2 linked regions of the Homo sapiens genome follow. The protein of the gene in region 1 interacts with the protein of each later gene in a biochemical or structural test. Each region holds a gene or a part of one and is shown in the gene's direction. Other genes may lie near its edges.

What was found.
Region 2: the proteins of GALNT7 (region 1) and GOLPH3 form a complex in vitro, tested with the Homo sapiens proteins (one study listed by BioGRID).

Annotation. Positions count from the first base shown.
Region 1 is NC_000004.12:173,318,633-173,324,583, forward strand, and holds the end of GALNT7 (N-acetylgalactosaminyltransferase 7), read left to right. Parts: intron 1-2,947; coding exon 2,948-3,085; 3' UTR 3,086-5,335; downstream 5,336-5,951. UniProt on the Homo sapiens protein: Glycopeptide transferase involved in O-linked oligosaccharide biosynthesis, which catalyzes the transfer of an N-acetyl-D-galactosamine residue to an already glycosylated peptide.
Region 2 is NC_000005.10:32,143,053-32,150,346, reverse strand, and holds part of GOLPH3 (Golgi phosphoprotein 3), read left to right. Parts: intron 1-6,466; coding exon 6,467-6,598; intron 6,599-7,294. UniProt on the Homo sapiens protein: Phosphatidylinositol-4-phosphate-binding protein that links Golgi membranes to the cytoskeleton and may participate in the tensile force required for vesicle budding from the Golgi.

The DNA of each region.
Region 1 (5,951 bases):
TAAATAAATCTTAAAACCTGCATTCAAATTCACTTGCATTTTCCTCTCATTTAGTCCCTTGCATAGGTTTTCCTGAGCACTGGATGACTCATTGTTCTATAATGAGGCATCACTTTTGTTCTCTCTTACAATATTGTCATGTAATGAGGCCACGATGATGTCTATAAAGAGCACTGCTAATTTTAGTAATACAAGAAAGTCAGTGTTCTGTGAGGCAGTCATCACCATTGCTCTCATCAAAATCTGATTTTTGAAATGTAAATGAATCATTCATTAAAGTAAAATATATTTAAATATATTTATACTATTAAAAATTTGGTTAATATTTGATATTGTCCAGCAGGTGGAGATAGAGACAAACAAATAAAACTTGAAATCTAGGCTTTCATAACGTCTTTATCATTGTTGTGTGCTAAATACAGTGGGATAAATGTAGCTAGTTGCTTACTTTAATGGTCAAATTTAGTTATTCACGTGACACTGCTGGGGTAGCTTTGTGTTTCAGCTGTGAGTATTTAAAGCTCTGTGGCAAGTTGAGGATTACAACATATTAATAGATTTATGTATAGTTTTCAAATTCTAGATTTGGCTAACATAAATCAATTTATTATTAAACAAAAAGTGGGGAAAGCTGCCTCACACTAAAAAAATCTGTCAACCCTCCATTTTATTTACTCACCCAGTATTTGTTATCATATCCCATCTGTCATGCAAGCAAGGACTTGTTTGCTATGTAATAATGATATGACCTAGCTTAACATTCCCTGTTACTGTCATTTACAGATAATTTCCAGGAAGTGATAAGCACGTATCAATTGATGATTTTGTTTCTTATAACAAGTTAGGAAGGAGAAGAATAGCATAAACCTTAAAGAGTGGAGCATTTATTTTCACAAAAAAAAAGGATATATAATAGCAATAAATAGTAGGGGTCAGTGAGAACAATATTAGCAAAATAGTAAAAGAGGGCTAACACACCAGAAACTACATCAAGAAGTAATTGAACAAAAAATGACACATAACATGTTTTAGGTATTTTAAAGACGCAGCACTGAATATACATTTGTGTGTTAGATATTACTGAACATTCACTTGGGGACCAATAATATGTTAGACTGTAGGGGAGTTCAAAAATATAGCTAAAGCACGCTATTATATAATGGCAGAGAAGAAAGAAATGCAAAAATAGAGATAAGCAAAATGCCATAGGACAGAAAAGAGTGATTCATGGGAGGAATTACTGCTGAGGAGTTTCATAGAGGAAGTGTCATTGCACAAGTCCTGAAGTGTAAAAAGGCTTTCCATGGAAAGTAAATAAGAAAGCCTGGATGAGCAAAGATGTGGCATGAAAACATGTAGAAAATTCAAAGAATTGTATTTCATTTGGTATCCCTCAATTGTGCTTTGGAGGAAAGAGCACCGAACTTCATTTTTTAAGTTTTGGAGAGGGATAGACCTTATTTGAGGAAGGTAGTGATGGAAAACAATGGCTACTTTTAGGAAAATAATTCTGGAAACGTGAGGTATGGACTGATGAAGCAACGAGATCAGCTTGAGCAGCAGTTCTCAAACTTTCTGTCCTCTGGATTCCCTTTACACTCTTAAAAATTTTTGAGCTCCCCCACCCCCAAATTGCTTTTGTTTATATAGGTTATCACTAGCAATATTTCCAGAACTGGAAAGTGTCTGAGAAATTTGTAAAGTTTTTATATATTAATTCATCTAAAAGTAATAATAATATACTTATTAAACATTAATGTAAATGACATTTTTAATGAAAAATAACTATGTTTACCCACAAAAAATAGTGAGAAGAATGGAATTCTGTATTTTTGCAAATCTCTTTAATGTCTGGTTTAATAGAAGAAGACAGCTGGATTCTCATACTCCTGCTTCATTTGGTCTGATCTGAAATGTTGTTTTCGTTCAAGTATATGAGGGAAACCCAGCCCCACACAAGCATACAGTTTGTAAAGGGAGCGAGTACTTTAATAGCCGTTCATATAATTGTGGCTGTTTTTTTATTGTACACCACAACTTAATAATTAAGTGGTAGTTTCTTAAAAGTTATTTCCAGTGTAGACTGATATCCTTGAGCATTGTACCTCATTATATGGAAGTACTTGATACGTACTTCCCACTTCATCTCATAGAATTTTTTTTAAGTATACTGAGGGGTCAAGACTGAATAAAACGAATGTTTTGCTCCTTCATCAGTGACATCCTTAAGTGAAACCGGCATTTACTTTTCAACTGTGTGTGGCCATGAGCAATACAACTATAGGTACTAGCATAGTTTGATTCATGCTAAGGCACCATCAGTTTTACTCACCATTGCTTTTGCACTATCGGTATAAATGTTGCTAAAGTGAAAAGGCAATGGTGTCTTCGTATTATGATGAAAATAGTTTCGGCCTTACAGACCCAATCCTGGATAGTCTGAGGACCAGACTTTGAGAAGCTCTGAGCTATATTGAAGAAACCTACAGCATATGGTGAGGGCCAAACCAGGGCATCTGCAGTGGCGATGGGAAGGAATATAAACCAGAGACATTGCACATATCCATCCTTAGTGACTGGTATGTGAGTGAATGAGGAAAAGTGCAGTATTTCCTAAGGACTAGAGAGCTGGGAATGTCATTAGCCAGGATAGGAACAAGAGACATAGATTTGGAGGGGCAGATAATGAATTTAGGTTTGTATACATTGAGTGTGAGATACCAGCAGTATATTGTGACTTAACAATGAAAGATCTTAGGACTTAGAAAACTGACAATCAAGAGAAATCCAGAAAACTGACAATCAAGAGAAATCCAAAGTCTGAGGTGTGGTTGAGAAGCTTTTCCATTTCCTTAAACTGTCTCCTCATGAAAGTCAAGTGATGATTTCTGATGTCAGTGATATCAAGGGTCCAAATTTGAAACTTTTTTCTTACTGTGTTTTCCAGAACCTGCACAGATTTACTCATATTCCTTCAGGAAAGTGTTTAGATCGCTCAGAGGTCCTGCATCAAGTATTCATCTCCAATTGTGACTCCAGTAAAACGACTCAAAAATGGGAAATGAATAACATCCATAGTGTTTAGAGAGAAAAAAATAAACCAATAACCTACCTACTGACAAGTAAATTTATACAGGACTGAAAACCGCCTGAAACCTGCTGCAACTATTGTTATTAACTCTGTATAGCTCCAAACCTGGAACCTCCTGATCAGTTTGAAGGACATTGATAAACTGTGATTTTACAATAACATTATCATCTGCAGTTACTGTTTACAAGACTGCTTTTACCTTAAACTTTGTAGATGTTTACATCTTTTTGTTGTGTTTTAAGATGATGTTGGTAATTTGTGCCTTTAGCTCTGTTTTATTAGACAGAGTTAAAGCATGTTGTCTTCTTTGGGATTACACTCAGGGGTCTGAAAGGCAGTTTGATTTTTATTTTTAACACACTTGAAAAAAGGTTGGAGTAGCCAGACTTTCATATATAACTTGGTGATTATCAACCTGTTGTGTCTTTATTTAATTTTACATCTTTTTGAAGCACTGCCACAGGTTATTAGCCAAGGTGGCCTTCCTTCACAGTCATGCTGCTTTTTTGAAAGGTGAATTTCAACACATTTAGTGCCTCTTTCATTTCTCAGTATATATTTCAAGAGCTTGTGATGAAATCTATAGGATGGTAATGATGGACTTGTCACCTGTATGGGGAATACTTTTACTACTCAGAAATGAATTTATGTGCTGCCATTTGCTATAAAGTTGAACTTTGTATGGCTTGAAAAAGAAATGACAATATGGAACATCCCAAGGCTGTCCCATAGGGTTGGAAGTTGTGTAGCATTCACTCCCTTACCTACTGGCATTCCCAGTGCCCTCTGTCCATACCTACTTCTAGGATTGCAAAGGAGTCTTCCAACTAGAGAAAAATTGTCCACTGACATTTGGGATTTACTTTTCTCCAATACCTGCCAATACAGAAAACTATTATCAGTTGTTATTGTTATCCCTTGAAAGCGAGGGTGACAAAAACAACAAAACACCGTTATAAACACATCAAAGGTTCATTCTGACTGAGGTAAGACTTTCCAAGCCCTTGTTAGATTAGGCCTTATAAAACTTGTGTGCATTATAACCTAAGCTGTGCAACCTGTGAAGCCAAGAGTGAACTGATGTTTCATTTATATTTTCATCCAAATGACATTATCTGCACGTTTTTAAAATTTAAAAACAAAGGACTATTTAAAAATACAGTTTATTAACAAACGTGAACTACTTTCTGTTACATTAGGTGTTCCCTAGTGTTTCTTAATTTCTTTTTAGAAAGTGTATTTTTATTAGTATTTTTCCGGTGAACAGAAGATTTGTTTGGATTTAAACATTTACTAAGACAGTACCTATTAGGAAAACCAAATATTGCAAATGGTCAATTCGATTTTAATTTCTCAAAAGATACTCTGTTATCCAGAAGATTAAAATGCCTACATTGAGTGCTTAAAAAAAAAAAAACAACTGTGATGATGTGAGCAGAATGGCAAGTAAGTTAAGCATTTTTGATCCTGTAATCATGGTATCATTACAATGAAAGGAATTCACAAACTACTGCCAGAGGAAGTTTGTTTTTTAATTTAAGAGGGAAATATAACCTATAAATTTGTTTCTTCCAAGCTTAGCTCTTAAATTTGGAGACTCAAAGTTAAACATCCTCAACAGAGTTTTATTTATAATTTTGAATTGTCAATTTGTATTTTGCTACTGATCTGTGATCAACCATTTTAACTTTCATCTCTAGGGATGTTTAACATTTATAATTGCAAAATAAACCAACTATAAAAAAAGAAACTAAGAGAGAATTGGTACTTTAATTACTTGTGTGTTTGCAAATAGGCTCCATTTTCCATGTTGAGTAGATTATAACCTTATTAACTATGCATAGGCCTAAGAAAGGTGGCAATGAACTGTGCATGTAAATTTTAAATGGGTACTTTGTGCAATTCGTTAAAAGAAGATACTCTATGAATATGATTCTATATATTGAAATCAGAAAACCTACCAAACAAAAACATCAGAAGCTGCTGCCATAATGACTATTTTCTACTGTAGGCTGCTTTGGAAATAATTCCCATATCCTTGCTTTGTAAGTTGGTAATATCACTATGCATTTCTACACATTTTATAAATTTGATTTATGCAGATTTTGATACACTGTATGTTTCTGTAGAAATTGTATAAATATTCAAAATTTTATTAGGATAAATTTGAGAAACTTACGTATATCTTAATTCTGGGTTGCTTGTTTTTTAGGTGACAAAAATAAAATATTGTATTTTAATTCATGGGTTTTTTTGGTGCTTGTAATCATTTCAAATCTAAACACTGCACATTTGAAAGAATTACTTGATTTTACTATTTACAAGACACACAATACCTAAAATATTATAGACCATAGTTATTAGTTGAGTATGTGCTTGACTGTTGCTTAGCATTCTGTTACACATGCTTAGAATACTCAGAGCTTATGTATCTGTTGGAAGGAAACAAAGGTTTATTTTTACCTGTTTGCCTATGTATACCAATTTTTTAAGTTTATACTTTTTTTAATTATAAAAAATTACCCCAGCAACATATATCCTTCTTGGCTGTATATAGAATTGCCTTCTTGGCTGTACTATAGAATTGCCTATTAGAAGCAAACATGCCTTCAAATCAAATTTGTTTACAACCTGACAGATCAGGTTAAGTGGAGAAAAATGAAGAGAAGGGAAGCCTACCACAATGAAATTAGAAATAGTCCATAGCACCTTGTACAAAACACATCTCAAGAGAAGATACGGTTGCTAACAGATTCAAGTAAGTGGCTGTATTGATTTGGGAAACTTTCTCTCAACTGACCTGTCTATTGTCATATCTCCCAATTCTTAGCTGCTGTAGAAGTAGGCTAAGAAATTTGAA
Region 2 (7,294 bases), on another chromosome or scaffold:
TTAACTTAGGAAGAACTAATAATAATGCTGAGACTTTGTATATAAGAATGAAATATCTTTCTATTATTCAAGTCTATTTTTAAGTCTTTCAAGAGACTTTAAACTTTTCATATAGGTTTTGCCATGGTATTTTTTGTTCTTTTTGTTGCTGTTGTAAAGGTCTTTTCAATTATATTTTAACTTTTTAGTATTTTAACATGTGTATTTTGTTTGTATATGACAACTGGTGTTTAATTTTATATAATCTGGCTACTTTACTAAACTCCTATCTATAGTAATTTTTCCATTTACTCTTATGAGTTTTTCTAAATATCCAACAATATCACCAGCAAATGCAGTTTTACTACTTTTTTTTTTTTTCTTGAGACAGTTTCACTCTTTTGCCCAGGCTGAAGTGCAGTGGCTCACTGCAGCCTCTGCCTCCCAGGATCTAGCGATTCTCCTGCCTCAGCCTCCCGAGTAGCTGCTATTACAGGCATGAGCCACCACACCTGGCTAATTTTTGTATTTTTAGTAGAGATGGGGTTTTGCCGCCTTGGCCAGGCTGGTCTTGAACTCGTGACCTCAGGTGATCTGCCCGCCTCGGCCTCTTAAAGTGCTGAGATTACAGGCGTGAGCCACAGTGCCCAGCCTTACTACTTCTTTAACAGTTCTTATATCTGTAGATACCTTTTCTTGTCTAGTCTTTTTAATCTGCTTTTACCTGAAGTCACCTTCATTCTCTTGATTAGTTATTTTTGTCAAGAACTTTTTGATTCTTAATTTTTGACATAATCAAAATTTCATGTAAGATTTCAGAAGTGACTTTATAGAATGTTTTTTTGTAACAGCTCTGAGATATGATTCATATGCCATATAATTGTCATTTGAAGTGTACAATTCAAGGTTTTCAGATTTGTACAACCACCACCATAATCAATTTTAGAATATTTTTATCACTTCCAAAAGAAAGCTCATCCCCTTTAGCCATTACCTCTCCCTTTTCCCATTTTGCCAGCCCTGGGCACCCACTGTATTAATTATCTTACTGCATAACAAAACATAGCAGGTTAAAACAACAAACATGCTATTCCGTGTATGTGCCTGTCTGCCTCTCTGTCTCTGTATGTCTTGGTTTGCCTCACATTGCATCCTCTCTCATTTCTACTCTGCATTTGTCTTCTGTTTTCCTTTCTGTTACCTTCATTCTCTGCATTTGTACCCAATGGCCAGTAGCTTCTGAATCCACACAGCCAGTACAGCTCCAGTGCCATGCCCATATAACTGATTCAGTATGGCAAGTTCAGATACTCAGGAGGGAGACTTAATTTGTTCATCCTGGTCCATTTAGATTTGGCAAGTACAATCACCTTTCTTTTTTTCTTTTTTTTTGAGATGGAGTTTCGCTCTTGTTGCCCAGGCTGGGGTGCAGTGGTGCGATCTCAGCTTACTGCAACCTCTGCCTCCCAGGTTCAAGCAGTTCTCCTGCCTCAACCTCCTGAGTAGCTGGGATTACAGGCATGCGCCACCACGCCTGGGTAATTTTGTATTTTGTATTTTTTATTTTTTTTGAGACAGAGTCTTGCTCTCTTGCCCAGGCTGGAGTGCATTGGCGCGATCTCGCCTCACTGCAAGCTCCGCCTCCTGGGGTCACGTTATTCTCCTGCCTCAGCCTCCCGAGTAGCTGGGACTACAGGTGCCCACCACCACGCCCAGCTAATTTTTTATATTTTTAGTAGAGATGGGGTTTCACCGTGTTAGCCAGGATGGTCTCGATCTCCTGACATCGTGATCTGCCCACCTTGGCCTCCCAAAGTGCTGGGATTACAGGCGTGAGCCACCATGTGGACCTGGCCTATATTTCTATTAGAAAGCCATTTCCAAAACATTGGTCACACCAGAATTCAACCTTATATAGAAAATATAGTGTTTTTAGTGATTTCATTTTGAAATATTTTGTACATAAAAACAAAATGAAACTATTTTGAGTACTTTATGCCTATACAGACTACTAGTAACTGAACATTCATATAACGTAGTATGTTTTGTAAAATGTTTAGCGGTTGCAAACTGGTTTGCCAGATATGTTTTGTTTAGTAAAACTTGAGTTGTAATCCTTTCAAAGATGGAAGTAATATATAGAAACGGACGTTTCTGCCCTCTTGAAAAAGATGTGGCAAGAGCAGGCCCACATTTTACATGGCAACAGTTGATAAGGGCTAAGCTGTCTTCCCCAGATAGATGGAAGAGGACATTGTCCAGCTTGCTGCAATCCACACCTGGGTCTCTTTATTCAGTCATGTTCTTTGTACTTTCTAAGTAACTGAGTTTGCAGTCCTCCATCCCCATTCCATTCTAATTGTACATAATTAAGTAATTACTAATTGCCAGGGGTTGTGCTTTATATATATTATTTAATCTTCACAACTTGTTTTATATGAAGAAAACTAGTCTCAGAAATTTAACTATATAGTATGTGGTAGAGCTGGAGTTGATTTGAATCGCCAGGTGTTTGTGCGGTCTGGGCTCTTGAGCACAGTTCTTTACTACTTCACAAATATGTTTTACTTTGTGGTTCATAGTTATTTTCATGGAGAGTTTTTAGTTCTTCTAGTGTTTTGCCTCTGTCAAATTACTGCCACTATCATAACTATTGCCTTTTAAGCTTGAACAACTATAACTATAGTTGATCAGTAAGGAAAACCTTACTTATCTCCTTGCCACGAGTTTTCCTTTACTATATACAGAAAAGCCTAAAGAAAATAAAGATCACCATAATCACCAGACATTACTGCTGCTAAAACTTTTCTTCTAATCTCCCTAAAAAATGGGACTATTTTCTGTCTCTCTACACACACACACACGATTTCATAATAATTTTTCATGTTTTGTAATAACCTCTGCACCAGGATTTCTTTTCTTTTTTTTTTTGTTTGAGATGAAGTCTTGCTCTGTCACCAGGCTAGAGTGCAGTGGTGCAATCTCGGCTCACTGCAGCCTCCGCCTCCTGCACCAGGATTTTTAAAACTGATTTTCATAGAATTGTAATATTCTGTAGGCTGTTAAAAGTATACTGTAAATTAAAATGCTTCAAGGTCAGGAAAGTTTGGGAAGTGCTGAGTTTATTCCCTTTTTTTTGCTTTTAGATTGTTTTTGTGTTTTACTATGATAATGATGTGATCAATATATTTGTACATATATTTTTGTGCACAGTATTTTCTAACTAAAGGCCCATAAGAATTGTGTCAAAGGATGTGAACATTTATAAGTTTTTTTGTAAATACAAACCTATGATATACATACGTATTAATATTTATGTAACTTCAAAATAAGATTACACTTTAGATCAAGCTTGTCCAACCCGTGGCCTGTGGGCCGCAGGTGGCCTACGGCTTTGAATCTGGTCCAGCACAAATTTGTAAACTTTGTTAAAACATGAGGTTTTTTTTTTTGTTTTCTTTAGCTCATCAGCTGTCATTAGTGTTAGTATATTTTATGTGTGGGCCAAGATAATAATTCTTCCAGTATGGCCCAGGGAAGCCAAAAGATTGGACACTCTGCTTTAGATAATATAATTTTTTATCTGTTTCTCATGTAGAATATATATTATGAGCATTTTCCCATGTTGTAAATGTTTTTAATAACATATAAGGAAAATCTTATACTTCCGGTTATATCCCTGTTATGATCTTTATACAAAATATTTTTATTACATTTCATTTTGGGTTACCAACCTTTTGAGTTCCTTCTTAACAAAAAGCTTCTGGGTAAGTAGGCAGTTGAGAGCAGAACAGTAGCTCTTAACTGGAATGGTGAGAACTCTTCTCAGTGTTGGCAGTTTTAGGGGACTTAATAAACAATACCCTTTTCTACCATTCAAATTGAGCCACTTGAAAGAATAAAGGGAATCAGGCAGATGGAGGTCTGGTAGTGTATGGCCCAGCCTACTTGGGGTGTCTCTGTCCTCTCCCATCCTTATATTTTAGAACATAGGAACTAATTATGACTACAGTCATAAGCTGCTTGATGCTGCCAGTTACTAACCTTCCCCACATATTTTATCTTTTTTTTTTTTTTGAGATAGGGTCTTACTCCTGTCATCCAGGCTGGAGTGCAGTGGCATGATCATGGCTCACTGCAGCCTCAAGTTCCTGAGCTCAGGTGATTCTCCCACCTCAGCCTTCCAAGTAGCTGGGACCACAGACGGGTGCCACCATGCCCGGCTAATTTTTGTATTTTTTGTAGAGATGGGGTTTCACCATGTTGCCCAGGGGTCTGGAATTCCTGGGCTCAAGCAATCTGCTTGCCTCTGCCTCCCGAAGTGCTGGGATTACAGGTGTATGTCACTGCGCCTGGCCACCCTATGGTTAATTTTTGATCCTGCTTTTATGACATGGATTTTAGCAGGAGGGTATCAACATACTGTACTTTTCTGTTGTTTGGTGTGTCTTTGTTGGCTTCATTTATCTTTGGAATATTGCTGACGAGTCCCAGAAGCTGTGGTACAGAACTGTCCGTTCCCATTCATCTACTTTCCCATGTGAATCCAATTCTGTTTAAGCATGTGTCTTTCAGCGATGATGCCTAAAGCCATTCACTAAATTTAGATCTCTGAAGTCTGTTACTAAAGACCCCATTTTGCTAATATCTCTGGGTATGCCATTACTCTAGGAGCAATTGAGATTGAGACATATTTTAGTTCTCTGCTGTCAAATGTAAGCCTCCAGGTACTGTTCAGCTGGAGTTTGCAGGCTGTAGGGCTGTTCACGTCCATTATTGCTTTATGAGGTGTTCTCTGTTGTTTACAGTTTGTAGAGGCTCATTTAGGAACTCTGTCTATATGTCCAGGCCAGTCAAAGCCAGATATCTGTAACTTTAATTTCATGTGGAATTCATTCTCAGGCTTCCTAGGGCTTTAATTTCATGGACACAGAAGCCACGCATTTTACCTAACCTCTATAAAGTACTGGTATTATTAGCCACTTTGCTAAATCTCTGGTAATCTTCATTTGATCAGGCCCCGACCCTAAGTTTAAAGTGACTCCCTAAAATCCAGTCAGTGTCTGCTACTTACACCTCACATTTAAATTGATCTCTTAACACTGATGTTTTTGTTTATCCGCTTGTGCCTCCTTTAAATTGTTATTTTCCCAAAGGTCACATTCTCAGAAGTGGTAGCTTGGTGAGGCGAATTTAACTCCTTGTATCAAAAATGAAGTTTGATGGACCTCAATGGTCAGTCATCTTCTGAAACACAAGCTCACTACTCTGGCCTGACAAAGTGCCAGGATTGACCTTGGAAAAGTGCCAGAGGTGAGGGCCAGGCCTTCCTAATCCTGGGCCCTCCATTCTTTAGAGATTCAGTTGGCCTGTTCTCCTACCAAAATTGTGTTACCCTGTTCTGAGCCTTAATGAGAGTTATTTATAGCTTCTGCTGTCTCATGAGAACTGGGTATCTTAAATTGATAGCTGGCAATCCTGCTGGCAAGATTTGTGGCTTTATAATTTGAACAACCCCAGTTGTTTGCTGTTAAAGTGTCCTGACCTCATCTGGTGATGCCTGCTTGACCAGTATCCCAGATCTCTAGATGTCTATCAACCTCCTTATGTCTGGCCGTTCTTCCACTGTGGATGCTGCCCTTACATTCTCTCTTGGGGCCAATCTGATTGTTATACTGTTTATTATTGAGAATTTTAGGCCTATAGCCATCCATTTGTTTGTGGGCGCATGTGTGTTTTTCTAATATCTTCTTACAAAATTAACAGTGTGTGTATTTAAGAGACAATGTCGCACTGTTTTGCCCAGGCTGCAGTGTGTTGGTGTAATTATTGCTCACTGTAGCCTTGAACTCTTGGACACAGTGGTCCTCCTGCCTTAGCTTCCTGGGTAGCTGCGACTACAGGTGTGCAGCACCACACCTAGCTAATTAATTTTTTTTGGTAGAAACAGGATCTCACTATGTTGTCCAGTCTGGTCTCAAACTCCTGGGCTCAAGCCATCGTCTTGGCTCAGCCTCCCAAAGTGCTCGGATTAACCTTGTGGTTTTATCCTAAACAGCAATAAATGAATGGTATTCTAATTCTCTGTGAAGCTAACTTGGCTAGGTTGTCTTTGCCTGAGCTTCTTAACTTGTCCACATAAATAAATCACTATAATCTGGGGTTAACTGAGTATTCCTTGGAGTTTGCAGGGTTCTGAAAGAACCTAATAAACACACAGCTTGGTGAAATGTGAGTTATGTTTCTAAACTTATGACCTCTAAAGTTATTTGTTGTTTGTATGTAAGAATAAGTGGTGGAAAGATAAGCCCCCGAAAATTCTCGATTAGTAATTTATGTTAATTGTATTTTTTCAGTATATTATTATAGAAAGACAGGAAAGGTAAAAGGCACCAAATATGACTTTGGCTGATAATATTTCTGTTTTTTACTCTGAATTCAAGGTAAATTAGCTATTTTGTTTTATTTCTTCTTCTTTTTTTAATAGGGTTACACATCATTTTGGAATGACTGTATATCATCTGGATTACGTGGCTGTATGTTAATTGAATTAGCATTGAGAGGAAGGTTACAACTAGAGGCTTGTGGAATGAGACGTAAAAGTCTATTAACAAGAAAGGTAAGAGGAGTGCTGAGTAACATTCTTTTTAAAGAGGTTGTACTGCTTAAAATGTATGTTTTTACTAGTAGCCTTCAAAAATTAAAGTGGAAGTTGATATTAAAGTTGTCTTTCTTCAATTGTATTTCCATATCTTTTTTGCATTCTTGGTTTCCTGGTTCTTTCACCTACAATGAGTAATGTAATTGATTGTTAAGGTAACCGGCCACTGGATCTTACAAATTCAGAAAGATTCTAGACTTCATTTGCAGCTTTTATTTATTTATTTATTTTTAATTTTATTTTATTATTATTATTTTTTATTGATCATTCTTGGGTGTTTCTCGCAGAGGGGGATTTGGCAGGGTCACAGGACAATAGTGGAGGGAAGGTCAGCAGATAAACAAGTGAACAAAGGTCTCTGGTTTTCCTAGGCAGAGGACCCTGCGGCCTTCCGCAGTGTTTGTGTCCCTGGGTACTTGAGATTAGGGAGTGGTGATGACTCTTAAGGAGCATGCTGCCTTCAAGCATCTGTTTAACAAAGCACATCTTGCACCGCCCTTAATCCATTCAACCCTGAGTGGATACAGCACATGTTTCAGAGAGCACAGGGTTGGGTTTAAGGTCACCGATCAACAGGATCCCAAGGCAGAAGAATTTTTCTTAGTGTAGAACAAAATGAAAAGTCTCCCATGTCTACCTCTTTCTACACAGACA